Linked DNA regions of Homo sapiens. The protein of the gene in region 3 interacts with the protein of the main gene of each other region in a pairwise test. Each region holds a gene or a part of one and is shown on either strand. Other genes may lie near its edges.

What was found.
Region 1: the proteins of TFG (region 3) and ARHGEF16 interact in binary tests that used the Homo sapiens proteins (3 or more experiments, as listed by UniProt).
Region 2: the proteins of TFG (region 3) and METTL27 interact in binary tests that used the Homo sapiens proteins (3 or more experiments, as listed by UniProt).

What each region holds. Positions count from the first base shown.
Region 1 is NC_000001.11:3,471,130-3,479,021, forward strand, and holds part of ARHGEF16 (rho guanine nucleotide exchange factor 16), read left to right. Parts: intron 1-1,948; coding exon 1,949-2,101; intron 2,102-2,263; coding exon 2,264-2,393; intron 2,394-3,578; coding exon 3,579-3,653; intron 3,654-4,840; coding exon 4,841-4,933; intron 4,934-6,745; coding exon 6,746-6,897; intron 6,898-7,294; coding exon 7,295-7,483; intron 7,484-7,892. UniProt on the Homo sapiens protein: Guanyl-nucleotide exchange factor of the RHOG GTPase stimulating the exchange of RHOG-associated GDP for GTP. May play a role in chemotactic cell migration by mediating the activation of RAC1 by EPHA2.
Region 2 is NC_000007.14:73,839,160-73,847,306, forward strand, and holds the start of METTL27 (methyltransferase-like protein 27), read right to left. Parts: upstream 3,358-8,147; 5' UTR 3,331-3,357; exon of another isoform or gene 3,164-3,330; intron 2,986-3,163; 5' UTR 2,982-2,985; coding exon 2,859-2,981; intron 2,040-2,858; coding exon 1,911-2,039; intron 1,391-1,910; coding exon 1,255-1,390; intron 962-1,254; coding exon 872-961; intron 1-871.
Region 3 is NC_000003.12:100,704,335-100,712,681, reverse strand, and holds the start of TFG (protein TFG), read right to left. Parts: upstream 3,189-8,347; 5' UTR 2,961-3,188; exon of another isoform or gene 2,861-2,960; intron 2,757-2,860; exon of another isoform or gene 1,614-2,756; intron 1-1,613. UniProt on the Homo sapiens protein: Plays a role in the normal dynamic function of the endoplasmic reticulum (ER) and its associated microtubules. Required for secretory cargo traffic from the endoplasmic reticulum to the Golgi apparatus.

The sequences.
Region 1 (7,892 bases), on a different chromosome or scaffold from region 3:
GTGGGTGTGTGTGCCTGGGCAGGGGTATGTGTGGTCTCGACCCTGTGCTGCTCCCTATATGCAGGAGGACCCCGGAGCATCGAGTCTCCTGAGCCTCAGCCTCAATGCTAACCTGAGGGGCGGTGCCTCTGGTCCCCTCGTGGGCTTGGGTGGCGCTGGGAGATGATTAGGGGCCTGTAGTGCCTGGCACAGGGCTGCCCCAACAGTGGTGGTTGCTGGCGCATTCTTATATCAGCCCCGCCCCTGGCGAGTCCCACCCATCTGCTGCCTGTGGGGTGCCCTTGCGGAACTTTGGGGCCCTGAGGGTGGGCAGGGAGCCGCCTTGTCCCTGGAGACAGGGGCTTCCTGTAGAGCTCCAGGGACCAGCTATGGGAAACTCCCAACCTCTGACTCAGCATGGGATGGGGCTGGGGGAGGGGGAGGGGTCTGGGATAGCGGCTGCCCCTCCCCCAGCTCTGCCCCCAGCCAGGCAGGCTTTGTGTTCTCTGAGCTCTGTGTCCTCCGGTCCCCTCTGCCTCAGGCAGCTGCATGTTTGCCTCTGACCTCCTCAGGGCTTTAGATTGCTGCCCTGGGGCGGGAAGCTCCGGCCTCCTCCCCCAGCTGGGCCCCCGACAGCTCCTGGCATTCACAGTGAACTGTCTGGGGAATCATCGCTATTTGGGGTAAGCGGCTGGTGGGCGGCTCTCCCAGACCTTTCTCAGAACCTGCAGTCACCCATATGAGCTGCTGACCGGCCTGGCCGGCCTGGGCACGTACGCATGTCGTGGCCCTGCTCATCCAGCAACCGAGGCCTCCCATGACCTGCTGGGTCCTCGTCCACGGGGACTGCAGCTCCATCTGCTGGGGATTCTCAAGGGCAAGCAGCTGTCAGGACACTCTCCCTGCAGGAAGCGTGGCTCCTGCGTGGGTGGCAGGCCCAGTCGGGCCCCGTGAGCAGAGGAGGAGGGACTCCCGCCCACCTCCACGCTGGGTAAGGGAGTCCTCCGAAGGACAGAGCTCTTGGGCTGGGAGGACCTCCTGTGGCGGCGGCCTGGAGACACGGATGTGGTCTCGGGTTGGGTGCTCTGAGGGTCTGCAGGATGGACGAGGCTCCAGCCACCGCCTCACACAGCAGGTGACCATCGTGGGTCCAGCCAAGCCCAGCCTTGGTGGCCGTGGCCGCCCATGGGGGCAGAATCCTGGCAGCCCTGGCCTAGCTCTGACCAAGTGTTAACTCCCTTCATCCTGATCACCCTGGACCAAGGCCTGGGTCATGGGGAGGTGAGGGGCTGGTAGCCCCTTCCAGGGAGTCTGCCAAGAGCCCACAGCTGGCCCCCCCCCGGCCTTGACTGTTCCCTCAGAACGGGGTGGGGGACCTAGTGAAAGTAAACAGTTCATGAACCCAGCTGGGAGCTTGACCAGCAGAGCTGCCTCGGATTTGGGACTCATCCTTGGAAGGGGTGGCCCCAGGCATCGCCCCTCTTTGCTCTTGTGCCTGTCCCCTGAGTCTCCGTCCTTGAGTTTCTTCCCAGGGGCAAGCTGGTGCGGCAGCGGGGGCCCGGGCCTGTGTGGAGGCCCAGTCGTTTTAGCTGGAAGGAGCTTGAAGGGCGAAGGGCACCAACTGGACAGGGCACCAGGACAGGAGGTCCAAATGGGCCCGCCTTTGGGGACAGTCCCTGGGGCTGCCCCTGGACAACAGAGGGACGGCACCAGTGCGTGGGATCGTGGCAGGGGGCTCTGTAAGGAGCCCCAGGCCTCTGACCACTTCCCACCCGCCCTCCCTGCTGTCCAGCATCCCAGGTCCGGGTCCCGCCCCAAGTGCTTGCTGTGTGCTGCCTCTGGGAGCTGAGCTCAGCTCCTGCCACGTCCATGTATGTGTGAGTGTGCATGCAGATGCATGTCTGTGTGTGCACACGTGGGGCCCGACCACCAGGCCCGTGGCACCCTCCTCACCCCTCCTTGCCTTCAGGTTCTTCGAGGACCTGGAGCAGCGGCACAAGGCCCAGGTGCTGGTCGAGGACATCAGTGACATCCTGGAGGAGCACGCTGAGAAGCACTTCCACCCCTACATCGCCTACTGCTCCAACGAGGTCTACCAACAGCGCACGCTGCAGAAGCTGATGTGAGTGGGCGGCCCCGAGGCCCGCAGGGTGGCTCAGGAGCATCCTGCACCCTGGTCTCCCAAAGCACATTCCTGCTCCCAGCCCAGCTTCTGCAGGTCCTGCCTGATTTTGGTACAGGCTGGCCATGCAGAGCCTGGAAGGACAGCCTTGTCCTCTTGCAGAAGCAGCAACGCCGCCTTCCGAGAGGCCCTGAGAGAGATTGAGAGGCGGCCGGCGTGCGGGGGCCTGCCCATGCTCTCCTTCCTGATCCTCCCCATGCAGCGGGTGACCCGGCTGCCCCTCCTGATGGATGTAAGTCCACGGCCTGAGGGTGGGGCCGGGCATACCATCCTGGGGTCCCACGGCCAGAGCCCTGCCCCGGATGGAGCATTACGTGCTTGTGACCTTCTCCTCCAGGCTTGGCCTATGATATTGTAATAGTTACGATCCTAAGATGGCTTTATTAACCAGGATAACTTTGTGGTCGCCGCCACCCACAGAGCTCACTGTGCCGGGAACTGTTCCAGCCCTTGGCGGATTTGTGTTCACTTACTCAATGGTTCATGAGGTTCAGGCACACTGACGAGTTGGAACTGGCATCACCCAGAGCCCTGCTGAGCCTCCTCCCAGCCCCCACCCCACCAGTCCTCCTAGACGTGGTAGCCCTGTCCCTGGCACCTACTCTCCCTGTTCTGTGGACGCAGAGAGGGGCTCAGAGAGGCTCACCAGCATGGGCTGTGTGTGTGGGATGCCAGCCCACAGGGCAGAGGGTATATGAGGGTGAAAGGTGTACACACACACGCACACATGTATATACAGTGTACACGCACTCAGGCACGTATGTGCCCATGTGCACACAATGCATATGTATGGATGCACGCCAGTACACACATGCATGCACACTTGCACACACTGCATTGCACCGATGCATGCACATGTGCACACAATGCACACGTTTGCATACATGCACACACAGGCACTGCACACACATGCACCCGGTGCACACACATACACGTGGATGCACACACATGCATGCACATGGTGCACAGGCATATTCACACATGTGCATGCTGCCCATACACACAGCCCCGCACATGGCAGGACTGAGCTAAGCTTCCTGAGGCTACACATGGCAGGGTTGCCCAAGCCAAACAGAACCTCAAACTCCTGGGGGCCCCAGGGATGTGCAGAAATGGGGCTGCCAGGGGGCCTCCACTGACGATTCCCCAAGTTGGATGGAGATGGCCGAGGATGGGAAGGGAAGGGTTCCAGGCAGGGGTGCTAGCTCCTGTTCCCACTCAACCTGGCCTGACCTGGCAGAGCTCCAGGTGGTGCAGAGGCCGTTCAGGGGCTGTACGTGCTGTGGGGCCCTGCAGGAGCCCCCTGGGGGCAGCTGTTGACCACCCTGCAGCCCCACACGGGGTCTGGCGTTGGTGGGAGCCTCCACACCTGGGATGCCAGAGGGGACTTTCTGTCCCATGTCTGTTGTCCATCCAGACGCTCTGCCTCAAGACCCAGGGCCACTCCGAAAGGTACAAGGCTGCCAGCCGTGCACTGAAGGCCATCAGCAAGGTAAGATGGGGCCTGGCCCCAGCCCTACCCGAGTCCTGTACCCCGACCCTGTCCCCACCCAACCCCACCCTACCCGATGGCATAGGGCTGGCTTCCCCTACCTTCCAGGGCAGCGAGTGTTCTCAGATTATCCATCCCAAGCCTTTCACAGCGCTGACAGGGAAACTGAGGCCCAGAGGTTCCCAGATTATCCATCCCAAGCCTTTCACAGCGCTGACAGGGAAACTGAGGCCCAGAGGTTCCCAGATTATCCATCCCAAGCCTTTCACAGCGCTGACAGGGAAACTGAGGCCCAGAGGTTCCCAGATTATCCATCCCAGGCCTTTCACGGCGCTGACAGGGAAACTGAGGCCCAGAGGTTCCCAGATTATCCATCCCAGGCCTTTCACGGCGCTGACAGGGAAACTGAGGCCCAGAGGTTCCCAGATTATCCATCCCAGGCCTTTCACGGCGCTGACAGGGAAACTGAGGCCCAGAGGTTCCCAGATTATCCATCCCAGGCCTTTCACGGCGCTGACAGGGAAACTGAGGCCCAGAGGTTCCCAGATTATCCATCCCAGGCCTTTCACGGCGCTGACAGGGAAACTGAGGCCCAGAGGTTCCCAGATTATCCATCCCAGGCCTTTCACAGCGCTGACAGGGAAACTGAGGCCCAGAGGTTCCCAGATTATCCATCCCAGGCCTTTCACAGCGCTGACAGGGAAACTGAGGCCCAGAGGTTCCCAGATTATCCATCCCAGGCCTTTCACAGCGCTGACAGGGAAACTGAGGCCCAGAGGTTCCCAGATTATCCATCCCAGGCCTTTCACAGCGCTGACAGGGAAACTGAGGCCCAGAGGTTCCCAGATTATCCATCCCAGGCCTTTCACAGCGCTGACAGGGAAACTGAGGCCCAGAGGTTCCCAGATTATCCATCCCAGGCCTTTCACAGCGCTGACAGGGAAACTGAGGCCCAGAGGTTCCCAGATTATCCATCCCAAGCCTTTCACAGTGCTGACAGGGAAACTGAGGCCTAGAGCCAGTGGAGCTCTCACACAGTTGATGAGCCCGTGGCACGGCTGGTCCAGGGCAGGCACTGTGGGCAGCCAGAGGCTGGCTGGGCAGGTGTCCTGGGCACACTGTGGGCCGTGTGGGCTGTGCCAGGGCCCTGTAGCACCAGCCTCTCACACGGGAACCATGCCCTGCAGCTGGTGAGGCAGTGCAACGAGGGGGCCCACAGGATGGAGCGCATGGAGCAGATGTACACGCTGCACACACAGCTGGACTTCAGCAAGGTCAAGGTAGGTGGCCCCGGACATCAGGGCCACTCGGACCACTTCCCACTCAGCCCTCCCTGCTGGCCTGCGTGTGAGGTCACACCCCTGAGCCTGAGGGCTGGAGAGTGGGTGCCTGCCCTCATGAGGCCTGGGGGCTGGGCCTCCTAGGGCTGGTGGCTCTGGTCTCTCCAGGCCTCAGTCTCCCGATCTGGGAGCGCCCCTTGTGGACCCCTCCCCTAATCCCACTGGGTGGGCCTCTGTGGCCCTTGCCCCATCCCCAGGACTGCACCGGCAAAGGGTAGACCCTAGGCCCTGAGTGACCAAGCCCAGGGGGCAACAGGAGTGGCCCTGTCAGTGCACTTGCCTGGGGCCAGCGCTCCTTGCTGGCCCCTCAGGGGCTGGGCAGGGCCTGAGGACAGAGCGGAGGGGACAGGGTGATTTCAGGGCCAGCCCAGATTCCATGTTTCCCAGTGAGGCTTGGATTCTGGGTAGGGTGAAATATTTCCAGCCCAGGCCCGGGCAGCCCTAGTCCCTGCCACAAACGGGCAGGGCTCATACCTCTCCCTCCAGAGCCCCCCACCCACGATCCCACACACTGGCCGCATCCTCTGTTGTCCTGGGACAGCCCAGGGCCCCTCCCCTAAGGCGGGCCCAGGTGGGTCTCCTGTCCTGGTGCCCCATCCAGGGGGTGTCCTTCAGGGTGGAGCAAGAAGTGGGTGACAGGCCACCAGCCACCCTCACTCAGGGCCACGGACAACCAAGTAAGGGTGCGGGGTCCCAGCTGGGGGAGGGGGCTCCCGGGGTGGGTCAGGGCGGGCTGCCTGGGGCAGGCGTCAGGGCGGTGACTTCGCGCCGCTGTCGCTGAGCCCACACCCGTGCAGCCCTCACGCTTGTCTCCCTGATCCTCTCGAGTCTGGGGTGTAACGCCTGCCCCTGCCAGAGCAAGGACCCCCTCCCAGGCCTGGTCCACCCCTGAGTGGGGCTCTCACCCCCACATGGTCTTGAAGTTGGTCTTGGAAACGGGTGTGGGGGTGGGGAGAACAGGCCCATCCAGGAGGGAGGGTGGTGGCAGAGGCCGGGAGCGGGAGGTGCCGGGGGCTCTGAGTCTGTAGTGGGCACAGGTGGGGAAGCCGGGGCCCACAGGGAGCAGGTGAGGAGGTGTCAACAGTCGCTGAGGAGCGGGAGCTGGTGGGCAGGCTCCTCATTCCCACTCTGCCCTCCCCCCCACCCTGTACTGCCACCCCCTACTGCGACACCCATCCCCGTCACCCCCACACTACCCACCCCATCACCCCCACACTGCCCACCCTCTGGCCTTTGCCATCCTTCTGCCCCCCACTGACTCCAGCAACTCAGCACCAGGCAGCAGGGAGGATGTTCTGTGGCTCAGGAGCCAGGAAAGGCCCCAGACGTGGAGCGTGGCCATCACGGGTGGGCCTGCCCCTGCCAACCCTCCCTCGGGGCTGAGCAGGTCCTTGTGCCTAGGAGGCCCAGCGTCTGCGTAATTGCCACGGAGGGGTGAGGTGTGTGTGGAGGCTTCCCCAGCACTGGCCTTCGAGTCCTGGCTTGGGTGAAATGTTCAGTGGTCACCCAGCCCTGGGCTATCGGGCAGGGTCTGGTCCGGCCTGGCGCACCTCGATTTGAGGCCCGGACACATTGTGCCCCTTTCCTCTGTCCAGCCCCGACTGAGGGCAGCCAGCTGGTCACCCAGTCCAGAGGCAGGAGTCAGTCCCACCTGGTGCTATGCGTCCTTGACCCCCTGGGGACCTGCTCACCCCGGCTCTGTCCCCCCCAGTCCCTCGCACTGATCTCCGCCTCCCGGCTCTGTCCCCCCAGTCCCTCCCACTGATCTCTGCCTCCCGGTGGCTGCTGAAGCGCGGAGAGCTGTTCTTAGTGGAAGAAACCGGACTTTTTCGAAAAATTGCCAGCCGGCCAACGTGCTACCTTTTCCTGTTCAACGATGTCCTGGTTGTGACCAAGAAGAAGAGGTGGCCTTAGGGCAGGAGGGTGTGGGGAGCCCCACTCCATGGACACTGGACCGCTGGCCCTGGGGCAGGAGGGTACAGGGAGTTGGCCCTGAGCCCCTCTGACCTCAGAGCCGAGGCGCGGCTTCCACTCGGCACATGCTCTACGTGACACTCGGGGGCAGGTGGCGCTCGCTGTGCAGCCTCTGACCTCCTCTGCAGACCTGGGTCTGCCGGTGATAGCCACGAGGAGGACTCGAAAGCCATGGCCTCTGTTCTGTGGGACGCGGGAACTCTTGGAGCCCGTCCGTGGCTGCCTCCCCACCACTGCAGGGGAGCCGGGTGGGACCTGGACGGGAGCCCAGCAGCACTGGGTAGGAGCTGGGTGGGACCGTCCCACCGACTGCCCGTGTCTCCACAGCGAGGAGAGCTACATGGTCCAGGACTACGCCCAGATGAACCACATCCAGGTGGAGAAGATAGAGCCGTCTGAGCTCCCTCTGCCCGGGGGCGGCAACCGTAGCTCCTCCGTGCCCCACCCCTTCCAGGTGACCCTGCTTCGCAACAGCGAGGGCCGCCAGGAGCAGCTCCTGCTCTCCTCGGACTCCGCGTAAGTGGGCTCCCGGGAGGGCTGTTCCCAGGCCACAGGCACATTAGCTCCATGGGGACCGGGTTGTCCCCCTGCCTTGCTCGCTGTTGCATGGCTGGCTCTGAACGCCCACCGTGCACCTGGCCCTGCTGTAGGTGCTGAGGTAGAGCCAGAAACAACAGAAATGGCCTTGTCCTCATGGAGTTTATGTTCCCGGGAGGGGACGCACCAACAGTTGGGCCACCAGGAGTGGGAACAAGGGAGGAAACGAGGTGGGGGGTGGGGTGCGGGGGGTGCCGTGAGGAAAGCTTAGCCCATGTGAGCAGAGGGAGGTGGGGCCGGAGTGTGGGGTTGCTCAGCAGAGGCCCCGAGGCAGGAGAGCCCTGAGGCCCCGAGGGCACAGCTGCAGGTGGACAGCAGTGATGCTGGG
Region 2 (8,147 bases), on a different chromosome or scaffold from region 3:
GTAATCCCAGCTACTTGGGAGCCTGAGGCAGGAGAATCTCTTGAACCTGGGAGGTGAAGGTTGCAGTGAACTGAGATTGTGCCACTGTACTCCAGCCTTGGTGACAGAGCAAGACTCTGTCTCAAATTAAATAAATAAATAAATTCTGGGAGCAGTGAGCACTCACGGCTCTCGTGGGGCCACCTCTGACCAGGCCCTGTGCTCTCTGGCCCCTTCCTGGGCCCCAGTGGGTTGGAGATCAAGGCCCAGAGGGCAGGGTCTGAGCCCTCTGCCCAGAGCAGAACAAAGCGCTGAGCAAGAACACAGCAGGAGACGGGAAACACACCTGCCCGGGCAGCGCAATGTGCAAAGTTTACAAACGGTGCTCACAGCTCTCATCTCCCCTGAGCAGCCCCATTTCCCAGATGAGAAGACTGAGACCAGGAAAGAGAAAGAGATGCTCCAAAGGCAGTCTATGAATGAGTGAGGAAGCAGTGAGAGGAAGGAACAGAACTGAGCCCTCACTGTGGGTCAGGACCAAAGCAAAAACCTTAGAGACAGGATTTCACCTGATTCTCACTGCAGTCCTACGGGGACTGGATTGTAGCATTTATACCACCTGACTCCCAGACTGGGAAAAGGAGGCTGCAGAGGAGGGTGGAGTTGCTCCTGGTTGTCCATGGATAAGAGCCGAGCTGGCCACCTGTCTGCCCGGCCTGTTTGCCTGGGTCTGCTGTTGGTGGCTGGGATGTTAGGCTAGGCTGTGTGTGACGCTGGGCAGGACGCTGCCCCTCGCTTAGCCTGAGGGGCTCTGGGGCCTGTGTCTGCACTATGCACAGGGGAAGGTATATGGTGACGGGGGTTGGGGGTGGTTGGCTGGGCTGCTCCTCACCTGGCTTGGTGACATGTAGCTCAGGTATCGCATTGCAGGGCACCTGGCCGTCACTGAGGGCACCGACTATCAGCACCGCGTCGAAGGTCCCTGTGTGTGTGTGGGGGGGGGTGGGGACATGGTGTGATGCTTGGAAGGTACTTTGTCTATGGTGTGGCCTCAGACCACCCTAGGGGTGGGACGAGGCTACTACCCGCATCTGCAGGACCCAGGTCCCCTAGAGGATAAGGTAAGTATGGCCCAGTTCTGGGCTGCAGTCAGATCGTGGGGTGCAGGGTTGAGTGAGGGACTGGGAGCTTAGTGTGGGAGAGGGATGGAGGATCAGCAAGGGAAAGGGCTTCATGAGGGTGGGCCTCGGGGTGTGGAGGTGGGAGAGAAAGTACCTTCCGGGCTGGGCAGAGGCTCCTGGCCCAGGGTGCAGAGGCTGAGGCGCTGATAGAGGCCGGGGGCCTGGGCCTGTTCCAGCATCCCTGGGCTCCCATCCACCCCATGCAGCTGGAGGAAGCCTGGAGCCCGCAGCTGGGGTAGGGGTGGGAGACTCAGTCATGGTTCACACCTGCCACTTCCCGGCTGGGTCCCTGCACCTTGGCAGGGCAGTGGACTCTGCACTGAATGTGGCCCATGCATTTGCTTTTTTTAAATTTTTGAGACAAGGTCTCTCTCTGTCGCCCAAACTGGAGTGCAGTGGCGTGATCATAGCTCACTGCAGCCTTGAACTTCCGGGCTCAAGTGATCCTCCCACCTCAGCCTCCCATGTAGCTGGGACTACAGGCGTGCACCACCCTGCCTGGCTAATTTTTAAATCTGTTTGTAGAGACAGGGGTCTTGCTATGTTGCCCAGGCTGACCTCAAACTCCTGGCCCCAAGCTGTCCTCCTGCCTCGGCCTCCCATAGTGTGAGCCACAGTATGCCTGGTCCTGTCTCATGCATTTGAAACAGTGAGTCTGAGGTGTGGGGCAGGGTTCTGGGGCCAGGGGCAGTAGGAGATTTGAGGAAGTGCGGGGCTAAGGAGTAGGCAGGGGATCTGGAAGAGCCTCACCTCGGCAGCCACTAGGCCTGTGCCACAGGCCACGTCCAGGATCAGGGCACTGTGGGGCGGGCCTGGAAGGGCTTGTGTGAGGCAGTCCACTGCGAGGCGGGGCGCACGGTACAGCAGGGTGGCCACATCCTGGGGAAAGAGTGCCGGGCCTACAACACCGGTGCCCCAGTGTTTGGGGGATCTCCCTTATGGGGTGGTCTCAGAGTCTGCCAGGCTAAGCTGTGTGTGTTGGGGATCAAGCCTGGCTGGGGCTAGCGTGAGGGGACGCCCAGGCATGAGGTGCTTCCCATTGCTAAAGGGCCAGGACTGGAGAGTTAGCCCCCAGCCCACTGTACAGTAGACTCAGCCCTCCAGGGACCTTCTCTCCTGGCCAAGCGGCTCTCTCTGCTGAGTCCACATGACTTTTTTTTTTTTTTTTTTTGAGACAGAGTCTCCCTCTGTCACTCGGGCTGGAGTGCAGTGAAGAGATCTTGGCTCACTGCAACCTCTGTGTCCCGGATTCAGGCAATTCTCCTGCATCAGCCTCCAGGGTAGCTGGGATTACCAGGCGCCTGCCACCACGTGGGCCTGGCTAATTTTTGTATTTTTAGTAGAGTCAGGGTTGCACCATGCTGGCCAGGCTGGTCTCGAACTCCTGACCTCAGGTGATCCGCCCGCCTCGGCCTCCCAAAGGGCTTAGGATTACGGCTTGTGAGCCACCGCGCCCGGCCCCACAGTGACTTCTCAATAGCACCTCCTCCAGGCAGCCCCCCTCAGGAGGTCATGGCCCCTGATGGGGCTGCCAATCCAGAGCTGTGGGGCGGGTTCTGGAAGGGGCAGGACTGTAGGGTTCTTAGCCAGGCCTCACTTCGTCCTCACAGCCGCCCCCGGGTGCAAGGCTGATTCCCCACTTTACAGGTAGAAAAATGGAGGCTGGTCTAGTGGAGGCAAGGCCCCAAATGAGTTTACCTGGTCGTAGTCCGGAGCCCAGCGGTCATAGAAATGGAGCTTTTGGGCCAGGTCGGGGATGCCATGCGCGGCCCTGACCCGCGCCCGCACCTCGGGCAGGCTCCCACCCTCCTCCTGGGCCATGCTCCTGTGGGGACACCGTTGCCCTGTCTCGAGGTCCACCTCAATCGCCCATCCCCTCCTTTCCCCCTTCCCTCCTCCCCCTTCAGAGGAGGCTGCCAGGCCTCCTGCCAGCGCGACCCCTATCCCGGCCCCTATCCCAGATGGGGACACTGAGCGCAGAGAGGGCGGGCTTGGATATTTACACTCTGGGGCTGCAGGGCTGGGGGAAGGGCAAGGTGGGAGAAGGGGGTGCCCCGCGGCTGGAGGAAGGACCTATCTTCCTCTTTTCCGCCCTCCGACTGAGAGAGGGTCGGAGGTGGGCGACATCCGGAGCGAAACGGTCTCGAAGGAGGCCGGAGTCAGAACTCACCGCCAATCCAGCGCGCCTCGGGCGTGTGGGCAACAGGACTCGGGGCGGGGCCTGTGTTGCGACCCTGGCCACACCCTCACCGCCTGCCCGCAATGATTGGTTTTCCGCTGAGAGAAAATAGCCAGTCAAAGGAAGGCGCTGGCAGTCTGCCCGCCCCCCCCCCCCCCGCCAGCCAATGAGCTCAAGGCTTGTGGCCCTCCTCCAGCCTTGGTAGAGCAGGGACTGCGGAGATGTTTTCCTGCTGTGCGGGTTTAGGGGCTTCTCGGTGGTCTGGCCCCGGCCTCCCCCTCCACCGTCAGGTAGCAGCACCTCCACCATCCCCCTCCAACTGCCCTCCTGCCTCCTGAAGTCCTTTATGCTTCCTGAAAGCATGAGGTTTGTAGGCACTGGGGAGTCTCTGAATTCTTATGGGCAGGAGAGGGACCTAGGATTAGCTTTCATTTTTACTTTGTATTTATATTTACTTATTTTGTTTTATTTTTGTTTTGTTTTATGAGACAGGGTCTCACTCTGTCGCCCAGGCTGGAGTGCAGTGGCTTGACCATAGCTCACTGCAGCCTTGAACTCAAGCTCAAGCCAGCCTCCTGCCTCAGCCTTCTGAGTAGCTGAGTAGCTGGGACTACAGGTGCATGCCACCTTGCCCGGCTTTTTAAATTTTTATCTATTTATTTTTATCTTCGTAGTTTTTGTAGAGACAAAAAATGTTGTCCAGGCTGGTCTTAAACTCCTAGTCTCAAGCGATTCTCCCACCTCTGCCTCCTGGCAAATTTTATTTTAATAATTTTATTTTAAAAAACCGTACTGGCAAATTTTATTTTAATAAGTTAAATAGCCACATGTGGCTAGTGGCTACTGTATTGGACAGCAGAGAGAGTCTTGCGGCTGGAAGTGTGACCTGAAGATACGCAGCGTCAGCCTCCGTAACATCTTGGTTTCCTCTAGGAGATGCCCTAGGGAAGCTTGTGAGAAATGCAAAAATTAGGCCGGGGCGCAGTGGCTCACACCTGTAATCCCAGCACTTTGGGAGGCTGAGGTGGGCGGGTCACTTGAGGACAGGAGTTTGAGACCAGCCTGGCTAACAGGACAAAACCCCATCTCTACTAAAAATACAAAAATTAGCCGGGCGTGGTGGCGGGCATCTGTAATTCCAGCTACTCAGGAGGCTGAGGTGGGAGAATAGCTTGAACTTGGGAGGCACAGATTGCAGTGAGCAGAGACTGCGCCACTGCACTTCAGCCTGGGTGACAGAGCAAGACTCCATCTCAAATAAAAAAAAAAAGTAAAAATTCTCAGTTGACCTGGGACCTTCTGAATGAGAATTAGATTTCTGGGACTGGGGCCCAGAGTTTCTGTGTTTCTACAAACTCTGCAGGCGATTTCTAGGCAGCTGAAGGTTCAGAAGCGCTGGTCTAGAGGACCTGTGTTGGAATCAAGGGTTTGGGCAGGCAGAATTTGGCAGGCTGTTGCAGGTGTCCAGGCAGGAGGTGATGGTTGCATGACCTTGGGTAGAGGTCATGACTGCGGAGAGGAGTGGGTGATCTTCAGAGATGTTTAGGGGGTAGAAGTGTCGAAGTGTCAGAGATGTTTGAACCAGAGCAACTCCATCTTGAATAGCGGCTGAGTAAAATAAGACTGAGACCTACTGGACTGCATTCCCAGATGGTGAAGGCATTCTTTTTTTATGAGATGGGGTCTCGCTCTGTCACCCAGACTGGAGTGCAGTGGCTCAATCTCAGCTCATGCAACTTCCACTTCCTGCCTCAGCCTGCTGAGTAGCTGAGATTACAGGGGAAAGGCTTATCAGAAACTCAAAGAATAGGACCATTTGTCTTTCACCTTCCTGTGACCCGGAGCCCCCTCCCTGCTTCGAGTTGTCGCCACCTTTCTAGACAAAACCAATGTACTTCTTACATATATTGATTGATGTCTCGTGTCTCCCTAAAATGTATAAAACCAAGCTGTGCCCCGACCACCTTGGGCACATGACGTCAGGACCTCCTGAGGCTGTGTCACAGGCGTGCGTCCTCAATCTTGGCAAAATAAACTCTCCAAATTAACTGAGACCTGTCTTAGATTTTCTGGTTTTACAGGGTGATGAGTAGAAGGAACCCTGTAGCGTTGGAGGAGAGTGGGAGATATTAGAGTAAACTCATGGGTTTTAACATAAATAAATGGAAAGATATGTAAATAGACATACATGTATGTGTGTGTATTTGTGAGTTTCCTAGCTTTGTCTGCCAAAATGACCTAAACACAATTAACGCTTCAGTAGTAATCACCACAACGAGCATCCAGATCTGGTTCTAAAAATGCATTCTTGCCAGGTGCAGTGGCTCATGTGTGTAATTCTAGCACTTTGGGAGGCCGAGGCGGGTGGATCACTTGAGGTCAGGAGTTCAAGACCAGCCTGGCCAACATGGTAAAACCCCGTCTCTACTAAAAATACAAAAATTACCTGGGAGTGGTAGCACACGCACCTGTAATCCAGCTACTCAGGAGGCTGAGGCAGGAGAATCGCTTGAAACTGGGAGGCGGAGGTTGCGGTGAGCAGAAATTGCACCACTGCACTCCAACCTGGGCAACACAGCGAGACCCCATCTCTTTAAAAAAAAAAAAAAGCGTTATCAACTAAAAGGAACCAGAGCTCCTTAGAGAAACAGCTGATGAAATGACTGAAACGCTTGGGGCAGGAAAAGTATGAGATGTGCCTGAAACATCTTGAAATACCTCAAAGCACAAGCCTCCTCCGGTTTTTCTCCTCCTTGGCCCAGGAGCCTGTTCTAGCCTTGGGGCTGGAAGGCCTTTCTCTGACTCATCAAGTTTTATTTTTTTTGCCTCTAATCCTTTACTCCCCTCAAGTCTTAAGTTTTTGGAGCCTCAAAGCCTTTTCTGTGTCTTTTGCTGAAAATGACCCTCTCACTCCTGTGGGCGGAGGATTACCTAGGTGCCGAGGCAAGAGACTGAAGGCACAAACTGTTTCAGTATAATAAAGAAAATGGAATAAGAATAGTCATAATACAAATTAGATGTAGAGATGATCATGGACAATTATCAATCATTATTATAAACATTATTAATCATTAGCTTTTAATTACTAATATAACCTAGGAATAACTGGCAGGTATAGGGTCAGGTGCTCAAGAGACATTGTGAGAAGTGACCTAGAAGGCAAGAGGTAGCCTTCTGTCACGCCCACATAAGGGCTACTTGAGGGCTCCTTGGTCAAGCGGTAACGCCAGTGTCTGGGAAGGCACCCGTTACTTAGCAGACCACGAAAGGGAGTCTCCTTTCCTTGGAGGAGTCAGGGAACACTCTGCTCCAGCAGCTTCTTGTGGAAGGCTGGATATTACCCAGGCCTGCCCGCAGTCATCCGGAGGCCTAAACCCCTCCCTGTGGGGCTGTGCTTCAATAGTCATGCTCCCTGTTCACTTTCATGTTCCTCCTCTACTCCTGGTTCCTCTTTGAAGTTCGTAGTAGACAGCGATAGAAGAAATACTGAAAGTCTTAAAGTATTTGGTCTTTCTTATGAATGCATAGAAGAAAACGCTGACGTATGCTGCCTTCTCTCTCTCTGTTTCGGCTACCTAAGAGGGAAGGGCCCCCTGTCCTACGATCATGTGACTTGCTTCACCTTGTCAATCACTTAGAAGATTCACCCTCCTTACCCTGCCCCCTTGTCTCCTATGCAATAAATATCAGCACTTCCAGCCGGTTCAGGGCCACTACCGGTCTCTGCATCTTGATGGTAGTGGTCCCCCGGGCCCAACTGTTTTCTCTTTATCTCTTTGTCTTGTGTCTTTATTTATTACTATCTCTCATCTCCGCACACGGGGAGAACACCCGCTAAGCCCCATAGGGCTGGACCCTACATACTACGGGCCGTGGATATCAAGCTTCCCCTCCCACCAAGTCTAGTTGCTGCCAAAGTGACAGAGGGAGCTTGGGGGCTTGGGGAAGAGAAAACAGTTTGGGGTGGGAGATGTATTAAAATGATCCATTGGCTGGGTGCAGTGGCTCACACCTGTAATCCCAGCACTTTGGGAGGCCGAGGCTGGAGGATCGCTTGAGCCCAGGAGTTTGAGACCAGCCTGGGCAACATAGGAAGACCCTGTCTCTACAAAAAACTTCAAAAATTACCTGGGTGTGGTGGTACGTGCCTGTGGTCCCAACTGCTCAGGAGGCTGAGGTGGATCGCTTGAACCCAGGAGGTTGAGGCTGCAGTGAGCTAGGACTGTGCCACTGCACTGTAGCCTGAGCAACAGAGCAGACACTGTCTCAAAAAAACAAAAAAAAAAAAACAAAAAAAAACACGACAAAAACCAACCCCAAGTGGTTTAAATATTAGGGGTTTGGTATTTTTCTTACAGCAAGAAGGCCAGTGGTCAGCAGCACAGGGGCCAGGCCAGGGGCCCACTGATCTCACAAGGGCCCTGGTGCCAACCTCTCACTTGCCACATTGTGTGTTTGCACTGTTGGCTCCTTCTGGTCACAAATGGTGGCAGCAACTTGAACATTCCTTGCATCCTTACATTCAAAGCCCAAGGCAGGCCAGGTGTGGTGGCTCATGCCTGTAATCCTAGCACTTTGGGAGGCCGAAGTGGGTGGATCGCTTGAAGTCAGGAGTTCGAGACCAGCCTGGCCAACATGGCGAAAACCTGTCTCTATTAAAAATACAAAAATTAGCTGGGCATGCTGGCGGGCACCTGTAGTCCCAGCTACTCGGGAGACTGAGGCAGGAGAATTGCTTGAACCTGGGAGGCGGAAGTTGCAGTGAGCCAGGATTGCGCCATTGCACTCCAGCCTAGCAACAGAGCGAG
Region 3 (8,347 bases):
CGATTATGTTTTCCATATTCCCAGAGTCTACAACAGTGCCTAGCAGACAACAGTCATTCAACAGCTATTAAATAAAGGGAAAAATAATGGATTAATATCTCTTCTTCTCAAGGCCAAGATGTTCCTGAATGTTATCTATAATCGCTGAACATTTTCCAAGCATAACTCCTTCCTCCTCCTGCCCCAAGAAAATGATCTCTTGAGACTTTTCAAGGTATCCTACAAACTACTACTGGCCACATTCTAGTTTCAACTTCCCGCCTTACTACTAGCAGCTTTCTGCTTCCTCCTCTTAAATCTGTTATTTCATTAACACCACACTTCTCTGCAATTATTCTTTATTCTTTCGGGGTATGTGAAAGCACTCACCTACTCCCCCAACATATCAACCCTTCAAGTACTTCAAAAAAGTTTTCATGAATCCTATTATATGAATATTATATATTAATGCCCTACTATTCTTCATATAAATACGCTAGGTCCTTCCATCTAACTAGTCCTTAAATTAATATCTCTAGACCCCTCACCATGCTCTCAACAGATATTTTATTAATAAATCTTCAATGAAATGGGTCATTAAAACTAAATATAACACTCTAAGGTCAATGCAGAACAGAGTGAACTGCATTCCACTCTAGGGATGCCATGCTTATCTTAATGCAAAATAAGAATACAGTTAGCTTTTTATCTGCCAGTTCTCACAATGGACTTCTCGTGAAGACAGTGATTAACAGAAATCTCCACACAACCAACTCTTCGCCTTCTGCAATGCCTTCTGCAATGCTTTCGGTATTCAGGAACTACTTATTAAATACCTACTATGTGCCAACTCTAAAGTATAATTACTTCACCAAGATGGTAAATATTCCATCTTGCTTGCTCTGGCAGCCTAAGAGTAATAAAGACCTTTCAATAAATCAATGTATTTGTTACCTTCTCCTTCCTACAAGAAGTGTAAACCAGCAATAATGTAAAAGGAACCAGTGCTTAGCTTCAGTGAGCTGGTACTATCTATTCCCAGCAGCACCTAGAAAAGTGCCTGACATATAGAATTTAAAGACTTTGTTTAAATTTTTTAATTATGGGAGAAGAAAGCTGTAATATAGATCAGTTTTTACATCCGACCCCTCACACTGTACCTTCTTTATGTAGCTAGAAGTGACTTCCATCAGACACACTCCTAATTAAGAAAAAAATTCCAGCTTTGAAGATAATTGATGGTATGTCCTTCTGACTGGGGTACGGGTTTGTTGCCCAATTTCAATGGATTTAAAATTTGAGGGCCGGGCACGGTGGCTCACACCTGTAATCCCAGCACTTTGGGAGGCCGAGGCGGGCAGATCACGAGGTCAGGAGTCCAAGACCAGACCGATCAACAGGGTGAAACCCTGTCTCTACTAAAAATACAAAAATGAGCCAGTTGTCGTGGCGCACGCCTGTAATCCCAGATACTCAGGAGACTGAGGCAGGAGAATCGCTTGAACCCGGGAGGCGGAGGTTGCAGTGAGCTGGGGGATCACGCCACTGCACTACAGCCTGGGCGACAGAGCCAGACTCCGTCTCAAAAAAAAAAAAAAATTGAGTCACGTATACTTTCTATCTGCCGTGTTTACCTGCAAATTCACTTTTTGTGTTTCCTATTGACTGTAAACATCTTGTGGCCAGGAACCAGTGCTTCTTTCCTAAAGCTGTCGTTTGCTCTTGCAGTCATCTCCCCAGAGTAAACACAAAAGTATCTCAAAAGTAAGTGTGCAACAAAACTTTCCCTTCAAGGGGAAATCCCAACCCAACATTACTTCACATACAGAATTCTGGTACTCATTTTCTCTTCCAAAGTAGAGACTGGTATTAACTAGTTCCTAGAACTGCCAGTAGGAGCCCTACGACAAGCTCTTCTCCCATCTTGTCCTTGCCCCGCCCCCTCTGAAGTCCAGAAATGACTCGGCTTCTAACTTGTATAATATAACCCTCTACCAGGTACACTTTTCTCAGCACTGGGAATAATCTGACACGCCCAAGGTCATATAAAAAGCCTGCCTCCTGAACCAGGTTCTAGGTTCGGCGGACAAACTTCTGGTTCTACTACCTCTAAGGGTAAGACCCTGCTCAATTTCAGAGGCTGTGGCTTAAGCACCTCCTGAGGGGAGCAGTTTCCTTCAAGAAATACTAAGCCAAGTCAACCTGTAATTATTCTAAAGAATGCCAAGAGGCCTCAAACCCTGCCTCAAAGGCAGTGCAGCAAGACGGTAAAGATTCTCACTACTAGCTATGTGATCTTAAGTCCTCCAAGGCTCACTTTCATCACATTCGAAATGAAAACAACCATATCTGAATTTGGAGGAATCCTTGTGATGATTAAATGAGACAGTGCATCCAAAATACTTACTGTAGTGTCCAGCAAAGCAAACTCTTAAAGTTAGCTAGAATCATCACTATAAACCAGGCTGGGCCTCCAGCCGGCGCTTGATTAAGCGCTGACTTAGCCAAGGAACTAGGCTCCGATTCTATGACCCCAATCAACTTATTCCCGTAGGCGCCACTCCACACCCTTCCGAGCTCCTTCGGGTATTGGGCGCCGGCCGCCCCAAACCTCCCAAAGCCCCTCTCCTCTCAATCCAAACGCTTGGAGGCAGGCTGCACCAAGGCATTAGCTGGCGCACTCCCCTCCCGGAGCCCCCCAGGCGCGCCTCCTGGCCACCGCAGCCAGGGGTTGCCTCTCTCCCCTCCCCCTCCGCGACCTCCCTTCCCCTCCCCCCATGCAAGGCCCCGCCCGCCCTCCCCCCCGGCCTCGTCCTCCCTCCCACCCCCTCCTCCCTCCCACCCCCTCCTCCCTCCAGCCCCTTCCCACAGTGCCTCCGACCCCAGCTGCCGCGCGGTTCGAACGAGGCCCTCCCAGCGCCTCCTAGTCTCCCGGCCTCCTCGGACAGAGCGCCCGCAACCCCCGTCTCCAGTGGCCATACCGGCTTGCGGAGGCCGCGGCCGCCGCCTCTCCGCAGGTCTCCGCTGAATGGGCGGACGCGAGGCCACTGGACTGGGGCGTCGCGGGGAGGCGGTGGTCACGGCCCCCTCGGTTGCCCTTCGCGACCGCCGCACCTCGCTCGCAGGCTCGCGCGGGCCCCGGCCAATCGCGCTGACCCAACAAGCCTAGCGAGAACTTGGGCTCTGTACGTGGCAGGTGGGGGAAGAACAGAGGCGGGAGCAAGAAAAAAAAAAATGTCCTTTCGCCCCTCCTTATTGCGCGTGGACATACCCAGGACGCATGCGCGACGGCGCGAGGCGCAGGGCTGGCTGGGTCCCGGCTGCCTAGGCCGAAGAGTCCCTGCTTTCTCACTGGATGACGGGATTTAGGAAGCGTGAGCTGCCCCGATGCACGCATGCGCGGGGCGTGACCACGCACTTCCGGTTTTCTCGAAAGCGGGTATTTCCGTTTCTCGCCAATGGGCGGGGCGTAGTGCGCTGTTCTAAACTTTTTGAGAGTTGGTTGCAGTAGACGTCTGTCCAACTTTAAGTGGTTTTTGTCGTTATTGTTGACCATTGTAGTAACAGCTGAAAAAGAAAAAACCTTTTCTTCTATAAATCCATTCATTCATTATTGGGAGCCTATGCTTTGCCAAGCCCGGTTCTAGGAATGGGGGTGAATCATTTTGTGAGCAAGGAGTTTCCAATTAAGCAGGGAAGACCTACAGCGTTTATGAGCAAGGAAAATCTGTAACTGTGTAAAGGACAAAAGCTGGGAAATTAAGGCTAAAGATTCCTGAGTGATTTTTAGAGGATAAGGCATTTGAGTGTGTCCTACGTACTCTTCCCTTCTCCCTTACCTGTTCAAATAGAAATACAGTATGAGTAAGTAGGAATTTATAGCCAAGGGGTGGAAGTCGGTCAGTGGATGGAAAATTACTAAGAGGAAATATCAGGGGCAAGGGAGATTCTGGCTAAACCAACACAACAGGATTCTAGACGAAGATAGGCCAGGATAGCAGACATCACCTGGGGGTGGTGGAGGATGAGGAACCCCATCAAGGGTGAGGGATTCTCACTACACTGCCTTAACAAGGTTCTTTGCTGAAACTGAGTTTTACAAGAAGATGCACAGATGGTCCTAGGAGAAGGCCCAGGAGCCCGAAGTTTGGCCAAACGGAGAATGTTTGTCACTTCTAAGGTGGAGACTAAGCTGATAAATAAAGCATTTAGACCCTACCTGGTCTCCAGTTGTTTACCAGTTATAAAAGAAAAACTTAAGCTGAATTAAATTTAAAGGAGTTTAATTGAGCAGTGAACGATTTCACGAATTGGGCAGCCCCCAGAATCACAGCAGATTAAGAGACTCCAGCAGAGCCACGTGGTGGAAGATTTATAGACAAAAAAAGGGAAATGAGGTACAGAAATTGGCAGTGAAGTACAGAAACAGCTGGATTGGTTACAGGTTGGCGTTGGCCTTATTTGAACACTTAGCAGTCTATGAGTGATTGAAGTGTGGCGGCTGGAATTGGCCAAGACTCGCTTATTGTAAGAGACGCATACTTCTAAGTTAGGTTTTCAATCTTGTCTGTTAAGCTAGGTTACAGTTCATCCACAAGGATTCAAGTATAGATGTATGGAGTCCTTCTCAGGCCATATTTAGTTTGCTTTAACACCAGATACTCCTAAAGGACCTGGAGTAAATTCTGGTGTTTCAGGGTGAGAAGCTACGTTCTTTTACAACCATAAGTAGTGTGATCTTTTTCAGTTATAAGTCTCTGAAACTTCTGTTTGAGAGTGAAATAATGTAAGTTTACACTGTTCACTTCTGATTTGTATTTTCCAACAGTTGTATTGACCTTTGAGCAATTGTTTGCAGGGATAAGGGAGTGGAGTACTGCAGAAGAAATGAAAAACAGTTCCTAATTGCTCTCCAAAGAATGTTATTCATTGCTTATTTTTTAAAACTGAATAATACAGATTTGGGGAGATGCACTGCTGTCAGATAATAGTATTATGATGTCATTAAGATGGTTTGGGATGGGGTAAAACCACAACCATATGGCAAAGGTAAAATATTCCCTGAAGGAAGTGAATTATACTACTGTTATAGTAGTATATTTAAACTAAAAAGAGGTCAGATCCTGAGGCAGGAGATAAGGAGGTGAACCTTGGCCTATTATAAGGTGAAAAGAGTATCTGCTGAGGATCCCCAGTGAGGGGGCACTCAAGAGTCCTGCTACTGAGGAGAAATAAGCTGGTCCCTGTTACACTGTGGTCATCTGTACGCTAGGAAGAGAGGCACCCATAAGCTGGCCTTGTGGAAAAGCTGGAGCTCATGGAGCTCATGGACTCCGAAAGCAACTTGAGGCTCTTTATGTTGTAATTTCCCTCATGCTTCATCCCGAAGCCATCAGTAAAGTCTTCTTTATGGTAAAGCCTATTCCCAGCTACTTCTGTGGAACTTGAGAGGTGGGGTTCTGGTGATTTCTCAAGTCGAAGCTGATGCACATCTATGTACTTAAGCTCCCAATAAATACAGGTGATATCTAGTGACAGAGCCATAACCTGAATTGAACCAGTTACCTCACTTACAAGAAGATGGGTCTCTTCTACTATGTCTGTAGATACATACTGGCCTTCTTTTCTGCATCTAGATGAATTTGGTTTTAAATGAACACTGAGCATAGTCTTGAACTAGAAAATACTACTCATTTCTTCCAAGGAACTGCTAAGAAAAAAAAGAAAAGAAAATACTGCTTAATGGTAGTATATTAAAGTTGAGGATATGTGAAGGAAGGAGAAGGAGTGCAAGGAAATATCTTTGACCCAGACTGTAGCAAGGAAAGATATGAGATTCTGCACTACACAGGTTATTTTCCATGTTTCATCTGAAGAAGGGTTAAGACTTACACTGTGATTTTAAGAGAAGGAGTCAACCAACCAACTTAGCTACCACCTGCTCTTTCTCCCTGAAAGTCTGTGTAGCTAAAACTCCTCACATGGAATGGGGGGAAAAAATCCTAAGAATGAAAACGGGATTCTCAGACTGGACAAGAAATGAGACAAAGACTATGAGCCCTGTTAGCAAGTTAGATAAAATCTATGTTTCATCATGTTCTTCTTTAGTACTTAGTATAAATCATTTTGAAAATTTGAGTCATCTTATATGTCCTCAGAAGAACAAAGGAAAGCGTGTACATTCCTCCTTGGATGAGAATTTCCAACGAGAAGTTATGTCCCTTGCCAAGAATCAGCTCTGTTGTGGCAGCAGCTAGCTAAAAAAAGAGAACTCCAAACAGAAGGGGAATCATGAGGACCAAACAGGAGCCAGCTAGTCAGCTCAGCCTCACCTTCACTGGCTAAATGTAAAGATTTGCTTGTGTGAACATAGGAAGCTGCCACCCTATGCAGAGATAATGAAGGAGAAAGGAACGATTTCTTACTTTGTACCTTTGAGTGAGTGATTCTTAGCACTAGCTAAGCAAAATACTTCAACCTGTCCTACCAGCTTCACATCCGTGAAATCCCTAAAATGCTTTTGCCTTACCATGATGCTCTATGTCCAATCTCTCTTTAGAGAAACTACTCTCAAAGGCAGTTCTTCCTAGATTTTGTATCACTAGAGGCTGATCTAGACATTCAATACATAGTTATTGAATAAAATAATGAAAACTAAGTTCCCCACCACTTTACAGGGCAAGCTCCCAGAAAAAACAAAAGGATCAGCTGTCAACGGGTAAGTTCCTAACTCCCTAGCCATGTAGGATTTGTCTCTTAGTAATTTGAAATCATTCACTTTTCTTCATTTACATCCCCTGGAGACAGTGCTAAGTTACCTCTCTGCTAAATTACCTGTCAGATTTCAAGTTGAAAGAGAAATGCAATTGTGAGCTGAATTGCATCCTTCCCCCAGAATTCATATATTGAACCACCTCAAAAGGTGACTGTATTTGGAGATGGATTCTTTAAAGAGGTGATTAAGTTAAAACGAGGTCATTGGGGTGAGCCCCTAATTCAGTATGACTGATGTCCTTATAAGAAGAGGAGATTAGGACACACAGAGAGAAACCAGAGATGGGTGCACACAGAGGCAAGGCCATGTGAAGATACATTAAGAAGGCAGCCTTCTGCAAGCCAAGGAGAGAGCCCTCAGAAGAAACCAAACTTACCAAATTTTTATTTCCAGCCTCCAGAACTATGAGAAAATAAATTTCTGATGTTTAAGCCACCCAGTCTGTGGTGTTTTGTTATGGTAGCCCTAGTAGACTCATACAAATGCCACAAGATGTGCAAGAAGATATAACTTTTCATTTGATCAAGAGTAGCTTTGTTAGGCTCATTTAAGAAACCTAGGCCCAATTAGCCGGGCATGGTGACATTCGCCTGTAATTCCAGATACTGGGGAGACTGAGACAGGAGAATTGCTTGAACCTGGGAGGTGGAGGTTGCAGTGAGCCAAGTTCGTGCCACTGCACTCCAGCCTGGGTGACAGAGCGAGACTCCAGCTCCAAAAGAAAGAAAGAAACCGAAGCCCAGTGTGGTGGCTCCTCATGCCTATAATCCCAGCACTTTGGGAGCCCAAGGCAGGATGATCACTTGACCCCAGAGTTTAAAACCAGCCTGGGCAATATAGTGAGACCCTGTCTCTACTAAAAATAAAAATCAAAAAAATTAGCCAGGCATAGTGGCATGTACGTGTAGTCTCAGCTACTTGGGAGGCTGAGGCAGGAGGATCCCTTGAGCCCAAGAAGGTCAAGGCTTCAGTGAGCCATGATCTCACGCCATTGCACTCCAGCCTGGGTGACAGAGTGAGACTCTCTCAAAAAAAAAAAAAAAAAAAAAAAAGAAGAAAAAGAAAAGTAAAAGAAACCTAGTTGCCAGAGTCTAGGAATCATGCATATCAGAGACAAAATCAAACTCTGGGTACTTGGAGACACTCATGTCTCTAATCTAACATTTATGCCAAGGATCCTGCTTTTAGTCCCTCCATATAAATGCATAATTAAACAGCATTCTCAAAAAGCCATTTCAATAAAGAGAGACTTATAATAAAAGATGCAAAGTAAAACCACAATGAGATACCATTTTTCATATATTCATCTGAGAAAAATAAAATAGTTACATAACACTTTGTAAAAAAAAAAAGTATGTGGCAAAATAGGCATTCATGCTTTGTTGTGGGGACATTAGTTTGTATCAACATCTAAAATGCCTTATGACACAACAATTTCATTTACAGTGTACCAGAGAAACGCTTGCACATAAGAGCACACCCATTGTTTTGTTTTCAAATGAAAGACTATAGAGCAATTAAAAGAAATGTACACATGCATACAGTTAGATATCAAAAACATTTTGATGAGTGCAAAAAGCAAGTTTTAGGAAG